Regions from separate parts of the Homo sapiens genome. Here region 1 is linked to region 2. The links come from fine-mapping of genetic effects on gene expression. Tissue or cell type: whole blood. Region 2 holds a variant in brackets; the other region holds the start of a gene. All regions are shown on one strand. Distances are from middle to middle.

The links. PIP is the estimated chance that this variant, and not a neighbour inherited with it, causes the effect.
Region 1: DAPP1 starts here. The variant in region 2 is fine-mapped to the expression of DAPP1 in whole blood (TOPMed, PIP 0.91).

What each region holds. Positions count from the first base shown.
Region 1 is chr4:99,815,216-99,817,902 of GRCh38, reverse strand. DAPP1 (dual adaptor of phosphotyrosine and 3-phosphoinositides 1) reads right to left here and starts at 1,076. Exons shown (of 9, transcript NM_014395.3): 1 at 889-1,076. The coding sequence starts at 989.
Region 2 is chr4:99,893,007-99,895,693 of GRCh38, reverse strand. It overlaps LAMTOR3 (late endosomal/lysosomal adaptor, MAPK and MTOR activator 3), which reads left to right and starts at 1,267. Exons shown (of 7, transcript NM_021970.4): 1 at 1,267-1,359; 2 at 1,694-1,739. The coding sequence starts at 1,731. RefSeq lists a silencer at 1,079-1,168. The variant C/G (reference allele first, on the strand shown) is at 1,081.

The DNA.
Region 1 (2,687 bases), 78 kb after region 2:
AGATGAAGATGACAACAGCTCCTATGTCATTGGATTGCTATGAAGAGTTAGAGCTATTTGTCCAGGCAGAAGGTAAAGGTTTTGCCTCTCCTCATGCACAGGTGTCAAAGCCACCTTCATTGGGATATTCCCAGTGCATTAGGCAGTTTCTCTGGGAAATCCCCAATTCCTCTCTTGTGTAATACTTGTTTCTTATTAAATACCCGGATGAGTTGTCATCTGGGTCCCTTCTTAAAGACAGAGCTCCAATGACTCCACCTACCTATGCTTACCTGTTTGAAGCAGAAATTTTATCCTCTTCCTGGATTGTTGGTACTGAAAGGCTCAAAGTTGGCTCTCTGGACATACATACGATATCAAATCTCACAAATGCAGTATCAGGAGAAAGAAATATACAAGCGAGACTGTTGCAGGAACTTCCTCATTCTCTGTCTTTTGAAAAAGTCCCTCTCCCTTACAGTAGGGTAAGCTTTCTGTTTATCTTACCAGAAACACAGTCCTTTTACTGTCCCTGGGTCAGTGCTAGAAACTCTTGAACAGCGCATTTATTCATAAACCAGAGCAACATCAAGGAAGCCAGGCAACATCACCTCTATATCCCAATTCTGTCCCTCTTCTCAAAGAATGTCCAACATTTGATTTTTTTCCCTATTTTCTCAACCAACTTGTTTTCACATCTAGAAAAATAATGCCTGCTTTTCCAATGGAATTAGCCCCAGACAAGAAGATACTTAACAGATACAAATGAATAAAGTGGAAAAAAATAAATGGTTGAGGTGGCAGAGGGCAACAAGGCACTGAAGATAGTCATTAATCAAAGCATGCAGGTGGGAGTGCGGAGTCAATGTCCACCCACTAGGTACTTTGAAAGGAGATCTGCTGCCTTACCCCAAGTCCTGGAGCAGCTCAGCCTCTCCATCGGATCTGCTCCACAGATCTGAGGGATCCTGGGTGCTCATCTTCCCTTCTAGAAGTTCTGCTCTGCCCATTCGCGCCCTTCACAGAGGTAGAGAGAGAGACACAACTGGGCTGCTCCTGACACCTTCTCGCTCTGTGAGACAGCAGCCTGCTATGGCTCTGAGTCTCCAAGGCAAGGAAGTGAAACTTGGTTACTTACTCCTCCCACCAACACCACCACCCTGGCCTGGAGGCACTGGCAGGAGTGTTCTGTCAGTCAGGAAGTATGCAAACTTAGGTAGCTACCTCTGAGGACACCCACACTACATCACGCAACAGGCGGTTGCTATCAAAGGAAATGAAGAGGCAACCACCCCACCTGGGATTGGACAACAGTGCAAACTGCTTGTGTGAGGCCAAACCCTAGCTTCTCCCTAATGCTATCAGCCTCTGGTTTGTAGTGGAGGATGCGTGCACTCTTTTACCCCATCTTCTTTCTGTCTTACACACCAACACAGGGAACACTGAGGAAGCTTCTCTATCAGGAACACCTTTAGAGTGGATAGAAAAAGCAGAAGCAAACCACAAATTCGACCCTGAAGTTTGATGTTTTAGCACTTTTGCAATATTTCTGCTTGTTTACCCAGACCTTCTAATATATCCTCAATGCTCCGAATAGGGATGATTCAGAGACAATTATTGTTTCCTCCACAGAAAAAGAATTAGGAGAGGAGAAGGTAGGAAAAAGTTACAAGGGGCCATTCTGGTGCCCACCTAATGGGGCATATTAGAACTCCTGGAGTCTTTTTTTTTTTTTTTTTTTGAGACAGTCTCGCTCTGTCACTCAGTCTGGAGTGTAATGGCATGACCTGAGATCACTGCAACCTCCACCTCCCAGGGTTCAAGTGATTCTTCTGCCTCAGCCTCCCAAGTAGCTGGTATTACAGGCACCCGTCATCATGCTCTGCTAATTTTTGTGTTTTTATAGAGACAGGGTTTCACCCTCAGGTGATACACTCACCTCGGCCTCCCAAAGTGCTGGGCTTATAGGCATGAGCCACTGCACCTGGCCTGAACTCCTAGAGTCTTTGAGTGCCACTTCCTTCATGGGCTTACTCACACCTGCATGGCTTTGTGCCCAGATTCATATGTAGAGCAGGATTCTATCTGCCTGGAATGCTAAAGGTAAATTGCAGTGACTGAATCCTTGGGAAGTGGAACAAAGTGCAGTATCAAATGAGTCAAGGACATATGTTGCTTCCTGCCTTTTCTATGTACCTACAGGTCTCTCTCTCCCTCTCCCTTTCTCTCTCTCTCTTCCTATCTCTACTCCCTGACTCATTCAGCACTCACCACAGTGCTCTGTAACTTGTTCTCACAGTGTGGCCTGAGGACTAAACAGCACAGCAGAACTGTTCCTAAAGGACTAGATGATTGCAAAAGGCTGCTGTGCAATGGTTCTATCCTTCATCTTCCTCCCTATTACCACTGTTCACCCGGGATCGGTGAGACCCGGGTAACACTGGTTGCCAGTGGGAAGTTCCTGAGTGTCTGGAGGCAGTCTGCTGAAGACTAAGCTCTGATAATACATATATAACTGACTAAATGAGCACTTAAATTCTTTTGGCTACAGTTTGCTCACAGAGAAGGACAGGGCCCACTTGAACAGAGAGGCCAGTGCAGGCCAGGGAGATACTGAATATGCATACAGCAGTGACAGGGGAACAGCCTGGGCACTAGAGTTCCTGTTCCCTCTCTAGAGCCCTTTATTTGGTGTTTTAGTATCTATT
Region 2 (2,687 bases):
GAGTTAAATGATGTGATTTGGGTCTTTAGAACATCATTTTTGTTGCTGTGTGGAGACTGGAGGGCAAAAGAGAATGTAAGAAGAATAGGAGGTTGTTGTCAAAAGAGAGATGATCATGGCTTGGAGTAGGGTAGGAATATAGATAGGTGAATAGTTTTCAAAGATAGGAGGTAGAATCAACAGAACTCTGATTAGATTTGTGACATATGGAAGCAGCAATTGAAAACCAGGCTAAAGTTTTCTGAAAATTTGGCTATGAAAGGGAGTAGAGGAAAAACAGTGTGGTAGCTGAAAGAGGATGCGATTTCTAAAGAAGCTTTTCTTTTGAGGGTCTCGCTCTGTCACACAAGCTGGAGTTCAGTGGGGCGATCACCACTCGATGCAGCCTCAAACCCTGGGCTCAAGGGATCCTCCTGCCTCAGCCTCCCGAGTACCTGGTGCACGCCACGTTCGGATAATTCTTAATTATTATTATTATTTGTAGAGATGGGGTCCTATCTTGCCAGGCTGCTGTGGAACTCCTGGGCTCAAAGGATCGTCCCGCCTCGGACTCCCAAAGTGCTGCGACTACAGGCGTCAGCCACCGCACCCGGAAAGCCTTTTATTTTTTTCAATTATTATTTATTACATGAGACCTTACTAATTTTTAAAAATTCTGATGTAAAAGGGAACATAGAAGGTGCCCGTAATCAGTGTCTGCATGTTAAAAGTAGACGCTTGAAGTGCTCCAGAAAACCCATGGCTCCTCCCCATTCAATCTAGGTAAGGCCTTCAGTAAAGAGCACCCATGGGGAAGTCACAAGAGCCTAGGAAACAGGTCAGAAACCTGTGGACCTGGTACTTCCAATCACAGGCAATCTGGTGCTTGCTCTTCAGCTCATCACACCATCCCCTCAAATTTCTTCATCTACAAGAAAAGGTTTTAAGATAACAGACCCTGCAAAACTAATGACATTTATACACCCTCTCTGCACAAGAATGTCTTGTAACACATAACCTTGCTTGCATTTTCTGGGTTCCTTAGGGTCCAGCGATCTCGTACAAATCTACCCCACAGCTGACTTCCTTCGGCCCGTGACA[C/G]AAGGCGCAGGCGCAAGACGCGGCCCGCGGTGGGCGGGGGAGGGGCGGGGCGCGTGCGGGGCGGGGGGGAGGGGAGGGGCGCGGCCGCCGGACGCGCCCTCGCAGCTTCCGCCGGGCCCCTCCGGAAATCCCGTATCGTAGGGCGACGGCGGCTTAGAAAGTGCTTCCTGGAGCGCAGACGAGGTCATGAATCATGTGACGGTGGCTTGAGGAGGAACCTGTCTTTAAAGCTGTCCCTGAAGTGACAGCGGAGAGAACCAGGCAGCCCAGAAACCCCAGGTAACTGGCGCTACTTTGCCTGGTTTTGAGGCCTAGTCCCGCAGGTGGCGCGGGTGGTGAGATTAAACAGAAGGAGAGGACCCTCTCTTCTTTTCTTTGGGCCTAGCTCTTTGGGGTGGAGGGGCAGGGATGGGGTGGGCTGAGGTAAGGTGTGCCAGCTGAGTACCTGTGGGGGTGCTGGGGCACTCCGACTCCCACTGGGCTCGCTGGGCCAAGCCCTAGAACCGCGGGGGTTTTACCTGGTTCTGACCAGGGCTGATCTCGCGTATTAAGTTGTGGGTGGGGAGGACGAGGAAGCCAAAGAGGGAAGAGTCACCGGGAGTTTCTCTTCCAGGCGTGGAGATTGATCCTGCGAGAGAAGGGGGTTCATCATGGCGGATGTGAGTGACACCCCTACATAAGAGGAAGGGGAGAGTGGGGAATTTTGAGGGGCATACTGAGCGGGGAGAGGTAGAACTTCCCAAACAGAAATTTGTTTTGATCCTCCCAGCCCCACCCATCCCAGTTAATTATTTTCTCTGATATCTGAAGTGGGAGACTAATATGAATGAATTTGCAGGATCCTGAGTTTCTGCCTCGAATGGGGGTGTAGGACACTAAGGTGCTTGAGACTGAGAAAATTAGGTTCTCCCTACTCCCCAGTCCAGCTGGGGCATAAGAGAGGCTCTGTATATTTACCATTTGAAATTCTGAATGATGGTTTGCTGCTTTTCCTGTCAGAATTTGGTCAGTAGGACATGTACCCACAATACTTTTTTCCAGTAAGTGATAACAATATCTCATTTGGTTTATTGTAGCAATTTACGATGATTTCTAACCCATGCCTCTTTAGAAACATGGTAACGTGTGTGTGTGTGTGTGTAGGAGGATAAAATGATCAGTCGGGTTTGGAGAATAGTAAGTGCTGGATGCTCAAAACAAGAGATACCTGATTAATCCATGTGAGGTCAAAATTGATACCTAAATTGTCAGTGAAATTCCTGGGATAAGAGAGTGTAATGAGACAAAATAAGATAGTCTTCTGGCCAATGCGGTTGCTTAGTCTGTAATCTCAGCACTTTGGGAGGCCGAGATGGAAGGATCACTTGAGGCCGGGAGTTCAAGATCAGCCTGGGCAACATAGCAAGACCCCGTTCTACAAAAAGAAATTTAAAAATCAGCCAGGCGCATTGATACCTCTGTAGTCACAGCTATGCTGGAAGTGAGGCGAGACGATTGCTTGAGCCCAGAAGTTGGAAGTTGCAGTGAGCCCCAGCTTAGAAAAATAAAATAGTCTTCTACTTCTTTAGTCTTAACTGTGTTTCGTGTTAAACACTTGACACACATTG